Linked DNA regions of Homo sapiens. The protein of the gene in region 2 interacts with the protein of the main gene of each other region in a pairwise test. Each region holds a gene or a part of one and is shown on either strand. Other genes may lie near its edges.

Region 1 (7,000 bases), on a different chromosome or scaffold from region 2:
GTTAGCACATGCCTGTAGACTTGGGAGGCTGAGGTGGGAGGATTGCATGAGTCTGGGAGGTCGAGGCTGTAGTGAGCCATGATCGCACCACTGCACTCCAGCCTAGGGGACAGAGCAAGATCCTGTCTCAAAAGAAAAAAATGTATATATTTGAATGGATAAAGAGATGGCTTTGAGTTTCTGAGATATATATGGTGCTGTTTATCTAAAGTAAACAAGTTTTCTGTAAATATTTTAAGGCTTTGCAGGCCAGCTGTAGTCTCTGTCACACATTCTTATTTGTGCATGTTTTTCCCAACCATGTAAAAATGTAAAGTGCATTCTTAGCTACTGGGGCAGGTTGAATTTGGCCCATGGGCTAGAGTTTGCCAACCCCTAACTTAAACCTTTGTACTAACTTTATGACCACTACTGGATTTTTGTTGTTGTTTGTTTTAGTTCTGGTGCCTGCTTTGTTTTTTTTTTTTTTTTTAATCCTCTTGCTGATGTTTCTTGGTGCAGTTACTGTGCCATTTGTATTGGTGCTTTTAATGTAATGCAAACTGGTAATAATATCTAAACTTGCTGGGGTTGTACATAAAATTATTGAAAAGATTGAAAAGATGCTGAGCATTGACTCTGTGGCATTCATTATGCCCTTTTGTGATTGCTGGATTTTAGCCATCTTTAGGACATTTGAGCTTTAGGAGAAGCCAAATTCTGTATAAATGACTTGAAGTGCTAATAGCACAGGTTTTGAAACCTCTGCCTGGGTTTGAGTCTCAGCTCTGCCTTTTACTACCTGTGTGATCCTGAGCAAGTTACTTAGTATCCCTGTCCTCTAGTTTCCTCCTCTGTAGTGTGGGGATAATAACATAGACATAACCTGAGAGTTAGAGTGTAGAGAAGGCTCCCTGGCAGATAGTGCTGTAGAAGTACTGGCCATTGCCATTACTCAGGTGCTTGTGTTTGCTGAACCTCATAGTAAGGGCTCGGAGAGCACTAAGAGGAGGTGAGAAATGCTGCTAGATTGACAGCTTGTCCCCAGATAGCCCATTCCCGAGAGCACCTTAGGTTTATACCTGATTTGTGTTGTAGTTAGTAGTGTCTCTGGTAATTTGAACTAGTTTCAGGTTGGTCTTGAAAACCTGGGGAGGTTGGGGGTAAATGATTTGGTAGCAGTTCTCTTTTGTGATTTTATACATTATCTTTGTAGAACTGCAGTTTGCTAATTCTCTGAGCCCAACACAATGAAGTCTGGGCCTAAAATCATAGAATTTCTTTTATTTTTTTTTTTGTTTTTAATTTATTTATTCCCTCCCTCCCTCCTTTCTTCCTTTCTTCCTTTTCTTTCTTTCTTTCCTTCCTTCCTTCCTTCTTTCTTTTCTTTCTTTCTTTTCTTTCTTTGGAGTCTCACTCTGTCACCAGGCTGGAGTGCAGTGGCACGAACTTTCTTCAGAGTCTCACTTTGTCACCAGGCTGGAGTGCAGTGGCGCGAACTCAGCTCACTGCAACCTCCGTCTCCTGAGTTCAAGAGATTCTCCTGCCTCAGCCTCCCGAGTAGCTGGGACTATAGGCATGTGCCACCATGCCCAGCTAATTTTCTTATTTTTAGTAGAGACGAGGTTTCACCATGTTGGCCAGGATGGTCTTGATCTCTTGACCTCGTGATCCACCTGCCTCAGCCTCCCAAAGTGCGGGGATTACAGGCGTGAGCTACCACGCCCAGCCTATTTTTTATTTTTTGAGGCAGAGTCTCACTCTGTCACCCAGGCTGGAGTGCAGTGGTGCAATCTCAGCTCACTGCAACCTCCGCCTCCTGGGTTCAGGTGATTCTCCTGCCTTAGCCTCCTGAGCACCTGGGACTACAGGCGCCTGCCACCACACCTGGCTAATTCTTATATTTTTAGTAGAGGCGGGGTTTCACCATGTTGGCCAGGCTGGTCTCGAACTCCTGATCTCAAGTGATCAACCTGCCTTGGCCTCCCAAAGTGCTGGAATTACAGCCATGAGCCACCATGCCCAGCCAAATCATGAGATTTCAATACCGCTGAACTTTGATTATGGCAAAGTGAACTTCTGCTTTGATTAAAGCTTGATGAGAGAGGTGGCTGGGGATAGTTTGAGATAAGGGCAAGGCAGGAAAATGCATAATCTTACGTGGGCTCATTGTCATTGTACAATTCTTTTGGTCCATGTGGAATTTGATCCGTCCTATGACTTAAGTTATGTTTATTTTTGTTTTTATTTTTATTTATTTTGTGTCTTTTTGAGAGACATGATGTTGCTCTGTCACCTGGGCCAGAATACAGTGGCACAATCTTAGCTCCGTGTAGCCTTGAACTCCTGGGCTCAAGTGATCCTCCCACCTCAGCCCCTCAAACAGTTGAGATTATAGTATGAACCACTGTGCCTAGCCTTAAGTGATTTTTAAATTTGTACTGAACAGTTTGTCCTTTCCTTCCATTAAATCATATTAGAAGTACAGAACTTGATATTTCCTGTAGCAATACAGTTTTTCTTTGATGAAGTTTGATTTCAAGTACTTATTTTTCATAATTTAAAGCTATTTTTTATAGAGAGAATTTTAATCAAATATTTGGATGTCACTATTGCTATATATGGTATTAAGTATGGTGACCATAGTTTGTAAACTCCAAACTGACAGCAAGACAGGAAATTTGTGTTAGCAAAGGCTTTTTTCTTACTGTTTGAATTTTTTAAAAATTAGATACAATACAGAGAGGAGCACACAAATCATTAAGAGTACAGCTCAGCGAATTTTCACACAGTGAACATGTGTAAACAGCAAGTAACAAAAGATTTACCTGCATCCTATAACCTCCCATTATTCCCTTTTCTAGGTACTGTCTCTCCACTGCATTCCCACCAAATATAACCACTATGCTGAATTCTGACATCATAAATGAGTTTTGCCTGATTTTGAGCTTTTGTGACTGGAAGTGTACAGTGTATATACCCTTTCGATTCTGTCCTCTTTAGTTTACCATTGTTTGAGAAATTTATCCATACTGTTCCAGAATTAACTACTGTTAATTATTGTTAATTAACTACTGTTGTAGTTAATTCATCCTCATTGTTATCTAGTATTCTTTTGTGAGTAAACACAATTTCCATTCTACTGTGATCCCAGCTATCCATTTGGGTCGTTTCCAGTTTGGGGTCCATTACAAATAGTAATGCTATCTGTAATGCTATTTTGTATTACTACAAATAGTAATGCTATTTGTGGCACAAAAATACTGCTTTTGTGAACATTCTTATACATGTCTTTTGATGAATGTATGTTTGCATTGCTGTTGTTTACATTATGTACCTAGTAATGGAATTGCTAGATCATAGGAGATGTATATATTAAGCTTTAGTGGATGCATTACATAATTATTAGTTATTATTGGTTATACCAATTTATCCTCTCATCAGTAGTATACAACAGTTTCTGTATCTCTAATCTCCAACATTTTAGCCATTTTAGAGTTTGTGTACTAACACATTGTGGTTTTAATTTACATTTCCCTGATGACTAATAAAGTTGAGTACCTCTTTTGTGTTCTTTATAGCCATTTGACTGTCTTGTGAAGTGCTTGTTTGTCTTGCCTATTTTTCTTTTCTTTCTTTCTTTTTCTTCCTTCCTTCCTTTCTTTCTTTCTTCTTTCTTTCCTTCCTTCTTTTCTTTCTTTCTGTCTTTCTTTCTTGTCTTTCTTGTCTTTCTGTCTTTCTTGGTCTTGCCCTGTCACCCATGCTGGAGTGCAGTGGTGCAGTCTCAGCTTACTGTAGCCTCGACCTTTTTGGGGCTCAAGTTATCCTCCTTTCTCAGCCTCCCAAGAAGCTGGACTACAAGCACGCACCACCATGCTCAGTTAATTTTTTATTTTTTGTAGAAATGGGGTTTCACCATGTTGTCCAGGCTGGTCTCAAACTTCTGGGCTCAAGTAATCCTCCTGCCTTGGCCTCCCAAAATGCTGGGATTACAGGCATGAGCCACCGCAGCCAGCCTTGGCTATTTTTCAAAAGGATATAAGTAGAACATCTGTATATCCCTTCAATTTGCATATTATTCAGTAAGAGTTGCACTCTGGTAGTAGAAATATATAAGGAGGAGAAAGAAGTGGAAACAAAAAGTCTATTCTCATGAGAAGACTTGGGGGATAGTGTTCTCTCTAGCTCCAAGCTACTTATTCCTTACGAAAAGTTGAAGATAAACTTATCTCAGACTGAGGCTGTCTCAATGTTGTCTTCCTATTCCATTATACACATATAACCCATATTTTTTTCACCAGCTGAATTTTGCTCCTAGAAAATTGATTCATCAGGAAAAATATCCGTCTTGCAAGGTGGTTCTCTTTAGAGTCTGCTGTGTGACATAGCTCAGGACAAATTGTGTGATGTCAGATAGGTTGGGTTAAGGAATAGACCTTATTGGGGAAAGAGAGAACTTGGAGGGCCAAGGTTAGCAGGAGAAGGAAATGTTCTCTCATCTGCCGTCAATTCAGGGAGGGGCAAACCTGGTGTCTGTGTTCACAGGGAGGGATCCATCCATCTGTGATTCTCCCTTCTTATCAGGTAGCATGGGAAAGCTACACTGTTGCGGGGAGGAGGGTCACACGCAGGCTACTTAGTACCAGGCACCCTGGACTTGGATTCAGGTTGCCAGTTGTGTGAGAAACTGCCCAGCACCTGAAGGCCCTGAACCCATGAGAAGTTGTACCTACCTCCCATGAGGAGGAATCCTGTCATCCCATGGGAGCTGAGCTTGGGTGCAGTCCCTCTTGCTGGCTTGTCCAGGAGTGAGCTCCAGGGTTGTTTGGGACAGTTCTGCTCATTGCTTTACACTGTGTATACATTATCTGTAGAGTTCCATGAAGAGAACTTCAGCACTGTAACTGCAAGTTTTAACATGGAACAGAATTTTTCTCACCTGTATTAATTCTTAAGATTTGAAGTTCTATCAACAAGCATTTAGATTGTGTGGAGATTTTTTTATTTTTATTTTTGGAGACAGAGTCTTGCTCTGTTACCCAGACTGGAGTGGCAGTGGCATGGTCTTGGCTCACTGCAGGCTCTACTTCCTGGGTTCAAGCGATTCTCATGCCTCAGTGTCCTGATTAGCTAGGACTACAGGTACACACCACCATGCTGGCTAATTTTTGTATTTTTAGTAGAGACGAGGTTTCACCGTATTGGTCAGGCTGGTCTCGAACTCCCAGCCTCAAGCAGTCCACCCACCTCGGCCTCCCAAACTGCTGGGATTACAGGTGTGAGCCACCATGCTTGACTGACATCATCATGTTAAAAGAATAAATGTTCTAGGGAGCTGGGCACAGTGTCATGTTTCTGTAGTTCTAGCTGCTCGGGAGGCTGAGGCAGGAAGATCCCTTGAGCCCTGGAGTTCAAGTCCAGCCTGGGCAACATAGTGAGATCTCTTTTTTTAAATAAATAAATAACTGTTCTAGGGACTAAAATTTCCTTTCACCATTAGTAATTTACTGTAGAATCTCCAAGAATGAACTTATTTTAGGTACTGAAAATGAGGGAGACTAAATGTTTTATACAGTAGTTTTTAGTAAAATATGAGATTTGATGCATTTGATAGATGATGTTTGTTTAAAATAATTCTTAAATTTTTGATCATGTAATTATAGTTTCATTAATGGTAGATTTGTAAAATAAATGTTACCAAATGAAAATGCATGTACCTATGTTAATTATCCTTATCTAAAGCTGAAAGTTCAGTTCAACTATGTTAAAACATAGTAGGGGCCTGGCAGGGTGGCTCTTGCCTGTAATCCCAGAACTTAGGGAGGCCAAGGTGGGCAGATCACGAGGTCAGGAGATCGAGACCATCCTGGCTAACATTGTGAAACCGTATCGCTACTAAAAATACAAAAAATTAGCCGGGCATGGCGGTGGGCACCTGTAGTCGCAGCTACTTGGTAGGCTGAGGCAGGAGAATGGCGTGAACTCAGGAGGCAGAGCTTACAGTGAGCCGAGATCATGCCACTGCACTCCAGGCTGGGTGACAGAGCAAGACTCCATCTCAAAAAAAAAAAAAAAGTTGGCCAGGTGTGGCGGCTCACACCTGTAATCCCAGCACTTTTGGAGGCCGAGGCAGGCGGATCACAAGATCAGGAGTTTGAGACCAGCCTGGCTAACAGAGTGAAACCCTGTATATACTAAAAATACAAAAATTAGCCAGGCATGGTGGTGCATGCCTGTAGTCCCAGCTACTTGAGAGGCTGAGGCAGGAGAATCACTTGAACCCGGGAGGCGGAGGTTGTGGTAAGCTGAGATTGCTCCACTGCACTCCAGCCTGGACAACAGAGCAAGACTCTGTCTCAAAAAAAAAAAAAATTAATGATTAAATTATTTAGGGGAGCCGGGCGCAGTGGCTCACGCCTGTAATCCCAGCACTTTGGGAGGCCAAGGCGGGCGGATCACGAGGTCAGGAGATCAAGACCATCCTGGCTAACACAGGATGAAACCCCGTCTCTACTAAAAATACAAAAATTTAGCCGGGCGTGGTGGCGGGTGCCTGTAGTACCAGCTACTCGGGAGGCTGAGGCAGGAGAATGGCATGAACCCGGGTGGCGGAGCTTGCAGTGAGCCAAGATAGCGCCACTGCACTCCGGCCTGGGTGAAAGAGTGAGACTCCGTCTCAAAAAAAAAAAAAAATTATTTAGGGGAAGATACTATACAATTCTGTTTAACAAGTCACATTTTAATTTTTTCTTTTGGAAATATTAGCAAGAAGGCTCACTTTGTGCTCAACATTGCCTGAATAACTTATTGCAAGGAGAATATTTTAGCCCTGTGGAATTATCCTCAATTGCACATCAGCTGGATGAGGAGGAGAGGATGAGAATGGCAGAAGGAGGAGTTACTAGTGAAGATTATCGCACGTTTTTACAGGTACTGATTTTAAACTCACTAAGTCACATTTCTTTTTTTTTTTTTTTTTTGAGACGGAGTCTCGCCCTGTTGCCCATGCTGGAGTGCAATG
Region 2 (7,094 bases):
AGACTCCCAGCCACACCCTGGCGCTGCCTCGGCTGCCTCCCTGAATGTCAGCGGCCTGAGGGACCCCACTCGGCAGGGAGCGGGGGCTGCTTGTGGGAACACACAGGGTCTGATTCCAAGTGAGAGGGGTGACTGGTGTGGCTTCAGACGGCACCAACCACGCAAAGGATACACAGCTTCTCGTCGTCCTGAAATGTGAAGTAAAGCTTAACAAAGAAGGGGTGATCCAGGCGCGACATGACATCCCGCTCTCTGGTTACATAGGGGACCTTGTTCTCTTTTATGATATGTCGCTTCTCCAGAATTTTAACTTCAGGTGAGAGAGAAGTGAGTTACTATCAGAAACAACAAAAAACACTAAAGACATGACTCACAAAGGTAACTGGTACAAATTAAAGTCTTTCAAACATTGTACACAACAGCCTGGTGGTCTCTAAAGCCAACAGTGTCCTGTACCCTGAAATCAGCACAGAAACACCGGCCCTGCCACCCCAGCCGCCCTGCACGGAGCCGCTTGCCCTGCTCCCGGACGCACAGCTCCCTGCAGCCCATACTCACTCGCATATTCTCTGGAGGTTGCCAGTTCTCGAGCCAGGACAACCTGGTTGGGAAAGAAAAGGAGAAAAAGAAACACACAATGTAATAACCAGGACACTGGGCCTGACGAGTCCCTCTGCCCCACACGCACGCTTCCTGTCCCCACTGAAGGCTTGAGTCTACAGTGAAATATTTTGGGTCTTGTACTGACAAGTAGAGCTAAAAGCCAATGCTCGTGTTGATGTGTTCTAACAGCTAAGAGAAAACATATCCATCTCTCTGTTGTTTCCAGAAGCTTCTGGATCAGCTGCTAACAGCCCTAACGGTGCAACACAAGTACAAACTCAGGAACCTCTTCGACTGCCACGCCCTTCACCAACAGAAGGAAGACAGTGGCGCCACCACAAGTGGCAGGGCACAGGGGCTTCTGTGACAACAATATGTCCTTCTAGTATACATTCATTGCAAAGGCTGCCCTGAAGTTTCGTTTTTGGAAATAACTGTTATCATACATTTTGTATGATGTTGCTTGTGGGCACCATGAAGAGAGCCTGGCTGTAAAGGACAGAGGGAGCTAAACCAGCAATGCATGGCCCTGCGTGCCCACAAGAGGGAGCCACCTGCCCGGGATGCAGCAGGCCTCCTGCCCTGTCCTCTCAGCACCCCTGAGCCCTGCACTCAAACCCCACCTCCGAGACAGAGCACTCCAGCAGGGCAGGCATCCCAAACAGGGGAGAGACCCTCCACTCGGACTAGCCTGGGGCACACCCTGAGGCACCAGACTGGAGATTCCTGGTGGGCCCACGGTTTAGCCAGAGAGCATGAGGCAGCTGTGCCAGGGAGGCCCCACCACCACCAAGTGGGACACAAGTGTCTCCTAAGACACCCACAGGGGGACGGCCTGAGGAGCAGGGAGCAGAGGAAACCTGTCCCGTGACATTCCTGGGGGCTGGCAGGAAGACCTTCAGGAGGCCACAGGGCCAGGTCCACCTGGCCCCGGGCTGTGAGCCGCAATCGGGGCAGGACTCCTGATGGGACACGTCAGAAGAGATCCTGGAAAGCACCATGTGAGACGCCTTGTGGCACTCAAGAAGAATGAAGTTGGATTCTGGGGACTCTACATACTCAAGGTCTTCCCAGAGGAATACGCCACGCATGGATGGCTCTCAGCTGCCAGGGAGAAAGGGGAAGTGGGCCGGGCAGGGCTCCCCTCTCTAGCTCATGTGTTTCTGTGAGGTCACGTTTCTCCACAAGAGCACGTGCTAGCTTCATAAGTAGAAAAGAGGAAGAAAGAATTGTGAACGAGCACCGATATTTAGTGGAACCCTTTCTAAGGGGATACTGATGTGATCTTTCCGTTGTCTAAACTCAACACTTCACAAGCAGGTTTCCTACAAGAAGGAAGGATCCTCTTCCAGAGAATGGCGCGTGACGTGTCCCTCCCTGGAGGTTGTGACCGTCCTCAGGGGGCCTCCCGGCTCTCCGGTGCTGCAGCTGGCTCTTGCCCAGCCTCCTATCACTGTCCTTTCCCCCTCCCCTGGAAATCAACTTTTATGTGATCTCCATTTCAGGAAAGCTGAGAAAGAACTGAGGGTAACACATGTAATCTGAGACCCAGTACTGTGGATTCCAAACAGCCCCATGGAGGAGCCTCCGGCTCACCGTGCTCTCCCGGGCACCTCCCTGGTGCAGGTTCAGAAAGACACGGACCACAGCCCCTGGAGGGACAGTGCCTGCTCTCCACCCATCTCCAGAACCCAGGGAAACAGGCAATTTCACAGATGAGTCTTCCTTTTTCAGTCAAGATAAATGTTAAGGGCCATGTATGGTGGCACATGCCTGTGGTCCCAGCTACTCAGGAGGCTAAGGCAGGAGGATCGCTTAAGCCCAGGTGGTGAAGGCTGCAGTGAGCTATGATCACACCGCTGCACTCCAGCCTAGGTGACAGAGCAAGACTCTGTTTCTAAAAGGATAAATACATACATAATAAAATAAAGTTAAATTAAAAAGAGACATACAAGGAAGTAAAACTGAGGCCAAGCACAGTGGCTCACGCCTGTAATCCCAACACTTTGCAAGGCTGAGGAGAGAATCACTCGAGCCTAGGAGTTCAAGACCAGTCTGGGCAACAAAGTGAGACCCTGTCTCTACAAAAAATTTTACAATTAGCTGGGCACGGTGGTGCATTCCTGTAACTGCAGCTACTTGGGAGGCTGAGGTAAGAGGATCACTTGAGCCCAGGAAGTCGAGGCTGCAGTGAGCTATGATCATGCCACTGCACTCAAGCCTGGGTGACAGAGCAAGACTCTGTCTCAAAAAACAGGTAAAGCTGAGAAAAGAGGAGGCCTGTTCTTTCACTGGGTGGTTGTAAGCAGCCATGCAGAATGCCCAAGGTTTTCCAAAGAGTTTCTTCTTTCTGAAAGGATCTGAGTCCCCAAAACTTTGGGGACTAGTCTCATGGTTGAAGGCATTTTTCATGAGGGCATAATCCTTTTATAAAAAAATTATTTCATAAAACCTGCAATTTAAAAAATCTAAAGTGTAAGGGCAGCAAAAGTTAACATTAATTAAAACAATATGTTGGGAATATGGGTAAGCTATATTTCATGTTTTTCTTTGCATTGTGAAATATTTCCTATGTGTAAAAAAGAGAAAAAAGGAAAATAAACCTCACCTACGGTTTCTTCACAAAGGTCAGGCAAGAAAGAATTATTCAGGAACTCACCCAGGCCCTCCAGAGTGAGGTGCCCCCAGGGCTCCCTGGAATGGCCCTAGCACGCACACGGCGGCCACCTTGGCGACCACAGTGGCGGCACGGGACTCTGTCTCTTTAGAGGCCCAGATGGAGACAGTACACCCCGAGTTGCTCAGGCCTCCCCTGAACCTGTTACAACCTTCACTAAATCCACAACCACACACGGCTTCATGGGTCCCACGTCAGCAAAACGTCCCATGTCAGCTGCTTTCGACCTTCATTTCTTTGCTTTCAGAGGAAAAAACACCCCGAAGACAGGTAACAAGTGTGACTTGACAGTACTGCGACAATACTCCTGTTTGTGAAACTCGGAACACAAGACTCTGGAGGCTGTGTCTCCAGCAAATGTCCAGAGCGTACTGTTTTATGTATTCAAAAAAACAAAACAGAGAAATAAGAAGAGGTCAATAAATGTCCCCAAAAACCCTGGAGAGATACTAACTTTCAATCTAAGAAAAAGAACAGCTTCCCAGGGCCCTGCCAGTGAGACACAAGGACACAGAATGTAACTTGCTGATGCCAGGTTAAAATGAAATTAACTACATCAGAAAAAACCTCCGCAGACCATCAAGAGATGTGTCTAACGTTCTCATCTACAAAACCAGGTTAAATATTTAGCCACACTCATCACGTCATCTGCTTGGGGGGTACCCAGCCCCCAAAGACTCAAGTGGCCTTCACAACAGGTGACACCCCTCAAGGGGCCTGAGACCTCCTGCCTGGAAGGACACCAGCCTTGCTTGGAGTCTCCGGCAAGCCCCGAGGAAGGTGAGCCTCCCCAAGGAAATCACGTACGTTTGACACACAGCAGCAGCAAATACTCACCGTGGAAAAAGAGCCTTCCCCAAGGATTTTCCCAAACTTGAAGTCCTCAGGCCGCTTCTTCCGAGGCTGCGGCGGAGGCTGGGCATGCTGCAGGGAGCCGGCGCCGGGCCGAGGCTCGGCTGCAGTGCCGTCCATGGCGGGGCCCTGCCTGCTGCCACCAGGAATGCCAGGGGGCGTGCTGGACTCAGTCTGGGTCCTCACCATTGATGGGGATGGGCAGGAACATAACACCACGCTGGACTGGATGGGCACGGCGTCATACTAGGCGACAAAGAGGAAAAGGAAGTAAGGCTCAAGGCAGCTGCCTTGCTCTCAATGCACGGACTAAGGTTTAAGGACCTCATTTCAACGCTCAAAAACAAACCCCAAGCACAGGGCAGGCCAGCTGAGCCCCGCGGTCTGCTGTGAGCTGCCGGCCTCCTCTCCTGAGTCCTGCCCGTGCCATGGCTCCCCGCTAATCCACCAGGCAGCGCCTCGCCCTCCTCCTGTCCCTCGCGCTGCCTGAGCCTCCAGCCAACTCATCCCAAGGCCAAGGTAACCTGAGCAGAGATAGCACGGCACATCTTTAATTGTGGGGGGGATGGAGAGATAAGAGTGATGATCGCATGTGTTTACAATACACAGAGACGCCCAGTGCTGGCAAGACTATAATAAAGCGAGCGCACTCACACCACTGCGGCTGGCACCAAAAACCGGGATTGCAGTGGAAATGTTTTTGGAAAGCAGTTTGGCAACTGTCAACAAAGCGACTACAGAACAGTTGTCAATGAGACACAGAAATACGAAGGAGAGGAGGGAGGGCAGAAACCCAGTTAACAATGTAAGCGGGCACGGAGGGAAGATCAGCGTGCAAAGCTAGGTCGGCAAGACGTGCAAGGTGCACCCACAGCCATAACAATCCCTCCCCAGACCCCAACGTGTCCTCACGGTGGTGGCAGTGGCCCCCCGCACTACAGAAGAACAATGCGAGGCGAGCTCAGGCGCGCTGATGGTGGTTTCCGATACAACTCCCCACTCAAAGAACCCCGGAGAGCTCTTGATTCCATCTCTCAGTAGGGTCCTGAAGTCCATGCTGTCTGAAGACACAGGGTCTCCCCCTGCGTCTGTGCCAGGACAGAGGGACTGCCACCAGCCAAGCTGCAATCCTTTTAAACGCTAAAAACGGCCGGGCTTGGTGGCTCATGCCTGTAGTCCCAGCAGTTTGGGTGGATGAGGCGGGTGGATCCCCTGCGGTCGGGAGTTCAAGATCAGCCTGACCAACACGAATAAACCCCTTCTCTACTAAAAATACAAAATTAGGCCGGGCACAGTGGCTCAGGCCTGTAATCCCAGCACTTTGGGAGGCAGAGGCGGGAGGATCACCTGAGGTCAGGAGTTCGAGACCAGCCTGACCACATGGAGAAATCCCGTCTCTACTAAAAATACAAAAAAACTAGCCGGGCTTGTTGGCGCATGCCTGTAATGCCAGCTACTTGGGAGGCTGAGGCAGGAGAATCGCTTCAACCTGCAAGGCAGAGGTTGCAGTGAGCTGATAGCATGCCATTGCACTCCAGCCTAGGCAACAAGAGTGAAATTTCGTCTCAAAAAAAAAAAAAAAAAAAAAAAATAGGCCGGGCGCAGAGGCCAAAGTGGGTGGATCACTTCAGCCCATGAGTTCAAGACCAGCCTGGGCAAACACAGCAAAACCTCACCTCTACTAAAAATATAAAAATTAACCAGGTACGGTGGCATGTGCCTGTCGTCGCAGTTAATTGGGAGGCTGAGGTAGGAGGATTACCTAAGCCCGGGGAGGTCGAGGCTGCAATGAGCCAAGATCACATCACTGCACTCCAGCCTGGACGACAGAGGGAGATCCTGCCTCAAAAATAAAAAATAATAAGTAAATAAATAAAAAGAATATATTCACTATTTTGCTTATCAAAGTCTCTTAAAGGAGGTGACTTACCTACGCTATGGACCCAATTACTCAGCCAATAAGAGGACACGGTCCCTGCCCATAGAAAGCTGATGTCCAGCCTGACCTCAATACAAAACCATCCAGTTAAAGTGGTGGGGGTGGCTATGCAGAGACGGGCGGGTGCCGGGAGAGTCAAGGGCAGCCCCTTGGCTGGCCAGGGGCTCAGACAGACCAGCTGGGGAGATGCATCACTCGCCCAGGAAAACTGATGACAGCTTAGATGGCACTGCAAGAGCAGGGAGGATCACACTCATGTCCAGAAAGTGAAACATAAAACAGCTAAACATGTACCACACAGCTTTCATACAAAAATTTTATATACACAAATTTTGAAAAAATAGAGATGGGGTTTTGCTTGTTGTCCCGGCTGGTTTCGAACTCCTGAACTCAAGTGATCTGCCTGCCTCAGCTTCCCAAAGTGATGCAATTACAGGCATGTGCCACCATGCCTGGTGACTTTTTTTCTGTTTTGAGACGGGGTCTCACTCTGTCTCCCAGGCTGGAGTTCAGTGGCATGATCATAGCTCACTGCAGTCTCGACCTCCTAGGCTCAAGTGATCCTCCCACCTCAGCCTCCTGAGTAGTGGGACCACAGGTGTGCACCACCGTGTCCAGCTAATTTTTGTAGAGATGGGGTCTCATCATGCTGCCCAGGCTGGTCTCAAACTCCAGGGCTCGAGTGATCCGCCATCCTTGGCCTCCCAAAGTGCTGGATTACAGACCTGAGCCACCACACCAGGCTGCCCCACACATTGTAAAGTTTCGCTTCCCTCTAATGTCAGATTCCAAAGACAGCAGCCTTCATGAGTCAGAAAGAAACATCGGTCATTTTGAAATCAACATCCAACTGAAGTGTAGAAAGGCCTCTGGATTTTTGAAACGGCAACAACAGATGATGTAATACAAAGACGCCCCCACCCCACTGCTTTCCCACTGCATGCTTTACATGACATGGCACAGCTTCCACGCCAGCAGCTTCAATCATGTAAAGCGAATGCAGTCCCATCAAGACCACAGCAT
Region 3 (7,000 bases), about 85 Mb from region 2:
GGGAGGGGAGTGGGGACCGTGGCTCCCAAAGCCCTCTGTGGGACCCCCGTGGTCCCCACCCCACAGACACTTGGAGGGAGACTGGCTAGGCCCAGGCACCACAGGAAGGGCGGACAGCAGCTCCCAGGCTACAAGGGAGACCCAAGGCTCGGAAAGTGCGTGAGGACGCTGGGGTGTGGACTCAGGTCCCACCAACCCTGACTCGCCTGTCCTGAGGGTAAGAGGAAGCCCCTCACCCTAGCTGACCACCTGTCTGGGGAGGCCGAGCTGTCACAGCAAGGCCGCCAACACCCCTACCCGCCTGGGACTGTGTCTCAGGGTGCTGGGACAGTCTTGCTGAGAAACAGCCAGTGCCGGGGCCAGCGTGAGAGCCCAGGAGCCGACTTCCCTCCCCACCTTTCGAGGCTGCTGGGGCTTCAAGTCCTAGGGCGGGGCTCCCCGGAAGGGGAGGTCACCACAGGACCCAGGGGCCAGCTCTGCAGCCAGCAGAGTCCCTGTCGTCTGCCGGTGGCTCAGTCCCCATCAGCCCCCACCCGGAGGCCTGGATAGGGAGGGGCAGCATTGTAGGACTAGCCCCGAGACTTCTCCGGAGCTCCGTGAGCCCCCAGCAGGAGGTGAGAACCAAGAACATTGACTGGGATCTCATTTCCTGCCAACGCAGGGACACGGGAGCCATGCCCGACTTTATTCCATTAGGAGAAACCCAAGAACGCGGCGCTTCTTACCCTCCGGGGAACAGTTACACGTTCATCTCAAGTAGCGTCCTAGGCTCAGCACAGAACAGTGGGACCCCCGCCCCCAGCATCCCCGTCCTGCCCGAGCCAAAATGGTGCAGAGCTCTGTGGGAATTTGGGGAGTCTTCCCTCTGAGGACGGAGGTCTCAGAGCTCTACCCGGGGCGGCCACCTCATGAGACCAGCTCGGACACCAAGAGCCACTGCCCATCTTAGAGTCTCTCACGCTCGGACATTCTCCTGGCCTGTACCCCAGTCTGACCTTTTGGCAGGAGAAGGTCTGGGAGACGCCTGTACCCCAGTCTGACCTTTTGGCAGGAGAAGGTCTGGGAGACATGGCTACCCTCGGTGTGGCACCAGATAGTCCCTCCGTTTGTAAAGAGACGTTAGCAAGCAGATTCGGGGCACGCTGCGACGCCACCAGGCTGGGCTGCTGTGTCCTCCTCCTTGCTGGTCTAAGAGGCAGTGCTGAGCAGAGCGAGGCCATGGCCCTGGCCTGGGGCTTGGGGCACAGCTGGGTAGCTCTGGGTGGGTGGCCAGCCCTCCCAAGTCTGAGTTCCTGTCACACGGGGGTGTGGGTGGGCCACTCTGAGGTCTCAATGACTGCTTCTCTGTGGTCACTCCCCAGAAACAGGGCTGGGCTGGTTGGGTGTCCCCCGAGCAGAGCAGGGAATGGGCCAGAGAAGGTCTGTGTAGAACTGTGCTGACATCCACGTACCCACCTGACGCCCAGCCCCACCACCTCTCTCCCCGTGAGGGTCCTGTGTGGAGGGCAGCCCTGGCCCCATCAGAGGCCCCCAATCATGCCCACGGATCACCCACATCGTACCTCCTCCTTGGCCAGGATGGGACTTCCAAGGGGCTGGCATTCCTGTGCCTTAGACGCTATGGACCTAGCAGGCTGGGATCAAGGCCCCCCCCATCCCCCGATGGCGCCCCGGCCTTTCCCACCAGGTCGTCCACCCACTGCTGCCGAGATCAGGCCTGGCTGGCCCAGGAGACCCCACGCTAGAGGGGCCCCGACTCCCAGCACCACCAGCAGGAGGGCACCCTCAGCTAGAATGAGCTGCTGAGCAGGTAACGTTCCTAGAAGCCTCGTGGTGAGGATGCAGGGCGGGTCCTCGTGAAGCCCCTGCAGCTTCTTCCTGTGCCTTCAAGCCACCTGCGTCCTGCAGCCTCCGACGCTCAGTCCTCCTGCCTCTGGGGCGGGGGCGGATGGCACCGGAAGTGGCCTGGGCACTGGACACCGCATGGCCAGGCTCCTTCATGGTCCTGCCTTCACGTGGCCTTGGGCAGAACCCTGACGGTCAGAGTTCTCGGGCTGGGAGGCTGCCAGGGACCTCCCAGACAGGCAGCAAGAGGCTGGCGCCAGCCACTCTCTGCAGCCGAAGCGCTGGATGGTTTGCTTCTCTAGAAGCCGGCATGGCCCAGGCTTCAGAGCCTCGTTTTAAATCCTGATTCCACCACATCCTGCCTGAGCGCTCTGGCAACCCTGTTCCCCTCTTGGAGGCTCTGTTCTGTCATCTGTCATTGGTGACCTCAGCTCCTGGCTGTGAGGACGACTGAGGAAGGACCTGGACAGCTTCCCCCAGCCCCACCCCTCCCCAGCAGCCGAGAAGGCCCCGGGGTGCCTGGTCTGGGAACACTGATCCTGAATGCATCCAAGGCGGAAACAAGAAATGCTTGGATCAAATCTCATGCCAGTCCCAGCGCTTGTAAAAAACACACGGTCCCAACGCCCCCTCCAGGGAAGATGCTGCTCAGAGAAGGCTCCGGGGCGCCACCCAAAGAGGTGGCAGATCGGACCGAGGTGCTCAGAGTGAGCCAGGCTCCAAGGTGCAGCAGCAGGAGGTGAGGCCAACTTGGCCAGACCCTCGAGGACTGGACTCCCACCAGTGAGGCAGCAGCGGCCCCGTCTCTCCATCACAGCGGCCCCCACAGGGGCCCGCATCTGTATCATGAAGACAAGAACTGTCGGAGGAGGCAGCTTCAGGACTTAAAAGGTCAGCCCAAGGCCCCTCCTGCAGGGACCTGAGCCCTCCAGGAAGCATCTCCTCTGAATCCAGGACTGAGCCCTCCAGGAAGCATCTCTGACTCCAGGACTGAGCCCTCTGGGAAGCATCTCCTCTGAATCCAGGACTGAGCCCTCCAGGAAGTATCTCCAAGTCCAGGACTGAGCCCTCCAGGAAGCATCTCTGACTCCAGGACTGAGCCCTCGAGGAAGCATCTCTGACTCCAGGACTGAGCCCTCCGGGAAACATCTCTGACTCCAGGATTGAGCCCTCCAGGAAGCATCTCTGACTCCAGGACTGAGCCCTCTGGGAAGCATCTCCTCTGAATCCAGAACTGAGCCCTCCAGGAAGCATCTCTGACTCCAGGACTGAGCCCTCTGGGAAGCATCTCCTCTGAATCCAGAACTGAGCCCTCCAGGAAGTATCTCTGACTCCAGGACTGAGCCCTCCAGGAAGCATCTCCTCTGACTCCAGGACTGAGCCCTCCAGGAAGCATCTCCGACTCCAGAGTCTTAACTGGAATTCTCAGGGTGGGGGAGCCTGCACCCATTTCTTGGGACTGGAGCAGTAAAGCACCACGCGGGGGTGGGGGTAGAAACACCCAAAAGGCAAACTCGTGTTTCTGGAAGTTAGAAGCCGTGATCCAGGTGTCGGGAGTGCTGCTTCCTTCCAGGGTCTCCGCTCCAGCCACCCTCCAGCCACGGAGTCTCCAGTGATCTCTGACATCACTCCATCCGCCCCTGTCTCCTCCTCTTCTGTCTCTTCTAAGGACGCCGCGTGGATCTAGGACTCACCCCAATCCAGGCTGATCTTGTCTCAAAGTCTGTTCCATAATGACACCTGCACAGACCCTCCTCCCAAATAAGTCACGTTGGGAGCTTCCGGTGGATGCGTCTCTTGGGGGATTTGGCACAGGATGGAGGCTTCAATGTTCCCTGTCTGGTCCCCTTCCTTTCACACATGGAACTGAGGCTCTGAGAGGAAACAAAACAGGCCGCAGGCAGTGGAATGTGAGTCGCAGGCAGGGCTGGAGCTGAGGCGACCATGGGCCAGGGTTGGTACGTGGAATCCCATGCCGTCCTACGTGCATTCTGCGTGGAGTGGCCCAGCCAGGGTTCTGGCAGGTGCCCCCGACGGCACTGGCTTCCTCTCCAGCATCCCTGTTCCGTTCGTCCATCCCGCAGCACTGCACCCACTCCCCACATGCACGTGCACGCTACACGTGTGCCCCCAAGTGTGCGCCCCACCGCCTCCCAGCCCAGGCAGCTGGTCGTGGGCGAGGCAAGGAGGGGCCCCAGGGAGAAGGAAACTCAGGGCCTGAGGGCGAGACCATGGAGGATGCCAATGGCCACAGGGGCACGTGGCCCATTGCCCTCCCACTTGGACACTTTGGGGTGCGTGTGTCTGGAGGGGCCAGGAGAGTGGAGGGGACGCAGTGGAATAGAAGCTGCCCAAGGCGGTGGGGGTGCGGGGGCTCGTCCTCCTGACCTCCAGGCTGCAGCTGCAGGCTCTGCAGGGCCCGGCACTCGCCCAGTGAAGGCAAGGTCTTGGAGTGGTGGCGGACGGTCACCTCTAGAGATGATGTGGTCTCGCGTTCCAGTCAGGGGAGCGCCCAGCCCCGCAGCCCCCAGGCTGGGCTCCTCATCCTGTCCTGGTGGCCAGAGTGGCAGGCGTTGCGAGCAAGTTCAGGGCTGTGGTGTCAGGTGCGGACCTCCAGCGCGCAGAGCCTCATCCGAATACCGCTCACCGGTCAGAGCTCGGGTTGAGGGGGCGCGCTCCTAACCCCATTCTCTGGGGCCTCCTGGTGCAGAGGAAGCTTCCTCCAAGATGAGGTAGGAGATGGGAGGCAGCTGGCCACGGCCTCTCCGCCACCCACCCCACACCCTCCACGCCCCCGCCACTGTCACTGGGCCGTATCACCCATGATCCCCCCCTCGAAGGGAGGACGAGGTTCCTAAATCAGGCAGCAGCTTCCAGCTCTTTCCGAGGGGCACAGCGGGAGCTGCCATTTGTGACGCTGTCCAACCCAGCAGCCACTGGGTGTGTTTAATGGTAAGTTAGTTCACATCAGAGGCAGGTCAAGAGCCAGGACCGCAGACACACCCAGCTAATGGCTGCCACGCTGGACCCAGCAGATAGTTCCATCATCCCAGAAGGTTCTAGAACAACACTGGGGGAGGGCGGGCAGCAGACAGCACAGGCTGGGCAGGTGGGAATTCACCGTCAGGGACAGCCGGCAAGCAACACGCGGTGCCCCAAGGACTGTGGGAATGGGAGAGACCTGCCAAGACACATGTCCTGTGTCCCGGGGAGCCAGGCCAGGCCTTGGCACAAACAAGCACCTTCGGCGGGAGAGGAAGACACCGGGCAGGGGAGCAGCTGGGGCTGAGCCCATCTAAGCCTACCCGCTCTGGAGGACACATCTGCTGCCAGGACTGCCCAGCCATCCACGCACCCCCTCCCCACGATGCCAGTATCAGGCCCGGCGAGACTCACCGTTTTCCCGGTGCTGGAAGGAAGGGGAGAACTCTTTGGCAGTGATCCTGGCGATCCGCGCCTCCTCCTGGGCTTTCTGAGCTGCTGTGAGGGCTGCCTCGGCCTTTGCCCGAGAGTGGGAGGTCCTGGGGGAGACAGGGAGGAGCGTGAGGGGGGGCAGGGGGCACAGGTGACAGGGGTCTGGGTTGAGGTACTCTGCCAACCCCCCAACAACGGGCTGGGCTAAGACAAGATGCTGGCACCCCATGTTTACCCTCAGACTTCTGGATCTTGTTCGTTCATTCATTCATTCATTCAATAAACATCACTGAGCATCAACCAACCAGGCCCAGTGCACAGGACATGCTTGAAAACACCTCTGGGCAGGGCATGGTGGCTCACGCCTGTAATCCCAGCACTTTGGGAGGCCAAGGCAGGAAGATCGCTTGAGCTCAGGCGTTCACGACCAGCCTGGGCAACATGGCAAAAGCCTGTCTCTGCCAAAAATACAAAATTAGCTGGGTGTGATGGCACGCATCTGTGGTCCCAGCTACTCGGGACACTGAGGCAGGAGGATTGCTTGAATCTGGGAGGTGGAGGTTGCAGTGAGCTGAGATCGCGTCACTGCACTCCAGCTTGGGTAATAGAGCAAGACTCTGTCTCAAGGAAAAAAAAAAGGGGAGGGGCTGGGCACAGTGGCTCACGCCTGTAATCCCAGCACTTTGGGAGGCTGAGGCGGGCAGATCATGAGGTCAGGAGTTCAAGACCAGCCTGCACAACATGGTGAAACTCCGTCTCTACTAAAAATTACAAAAATTAGCCGGGTGTTGTGGCACGTGCCTGTAATCCCAGCTACTCAGGAGGCTGAGGAAGGAGAATTGCTTGAACCTGGGAGGCGGAAGTTGCAGTGAGCGGAGATCACGCCATTGCACTCCAGCCTGGGTGACAGAGCAAGACTCCATCTCAAAAAAAAAAAAAGAAAATGTTTCTGTTCTTATTATCAACAAACATCAGCATGTGCACAGAAAGAGTCCAAGCCCAGACAACCCACCCCGGCGGTGCCGGCCCGCTGTGCTGTGTGTGTCTGTGCTTCCTGCCACTGCCCCGGTGTGGGTTGCGGGACCACCTCCCTGCCCAGTAATCCCAGCAACTCTGACTTGGGAACCCAGGGCTTGGGCAGCTGGGCAGTTCCCTCACCCAGCCGAAAGATGACGCCGACACCCATGTGTGACACGAAGGAGCCATTGTACCTGTGGGCAGCCGGGCACGTCACCCCTCTGGCCGCTCCCTGACTGTGTCTCTCCCTCTGCTGAGTCCTGCAGGGGACCTGCCCACCCTTTGTAAGACAAGGGACTAGACAGACGTCCCGAAGGCAGAATGTGGGGCTCTGTGCATCTCAGCAGCCTGGGGCTTGCATTTCTTCCTACCTGGTGTGCTGGCCCCCGGGGGGGCCTGCCAGTGGCCATGGGCACCACTTCCCCAACAATGGGGAAACTGAGGCACAATGACCAATTCCCCCACGACAAATCCCCCCTCCGAGCAGACTCCCTGGGAGGTCTCCTGTTCACGGTTCCTGACTTAGCCTGTTGGGGCTGCAACAAAGCACCGCAGCTTGGGCGGCTCATCAATAGCAGACATTGCTTTCCCCCAGTTCCGGAGGCTGGAAGTCCAAGATCAAGGTGCCAGCAGATTTGGTGTCTGCAGAGGACCCACTTTCTGGGTCCTGGACAGCACCTTCCTGCTGGGTGCTCACATGGTAGAAGAAGCGAGGGTGCTCTCT

The links.
Region 1: the proteins of PDPK1 (region 2) and ATXN3 interact in binary tests that used the Homo sapiens proteins (3 or more experiments, as listed by UniProt).
Region 3: the proteins of PDPK1 (region 2) and JPH3 interact in binary tests that used the Homo sapiens proteins (3 or more experiments, as listed by UniProt).

Annotation. Positions count from the first base shown.
Region 1 is NC_000014.9:92,096,583-92,103,582, reverse strand, and holds part of ATXN3 (ataxin-3 reference isoform), read left to right. Parts: intron 1-6,744; coding exon 6,745-6,909; intron 6,910-7,000. UniProt on the Homo sapiens protein: Deubiquitinating enzyme involved in protein homeostasis maintenance, transcription, cytoskeleton regulation, myogenesis and degradation of misfolded chaperone substrates.
Region 2 is NC_000016.10:2,554,987-2,562,080, reverse strand, and holds part of PDPK1 (3-phosphoinositide-dependent protein kinase 1), read right to left. Parts: intron 4,379-7,094; coding exon 4,118-4,378; intron 4,102-4,117; exon of another isoform or gene 602-4,101; coding exon 559-601; intron 336-558; exon of another isoform or gene 311-335; coding exon 173-310; intron 1-172. UniProt on the Homo sapiens protein: Serine/threonine kinase which acts as a master kinase, phosphorylating and activating a subgroup of the AGC family of protein kinases.
Region 3 is NC_000016.10:87,682,508-87,689,507, reverse strand, and holds part of JPH3 (junctophilin-3), read right to left. Parts: intron 5,367-7,000; coding exon 5,242-5,366; intron 1-5,241. UniProt on the Homo sapiens protein: Junctophilins contribute to the formation of junctional membrane complexes (JMCs) which link the plasma membrane with the endoplasmic or sarcoplasmic reticulum in excitable cells.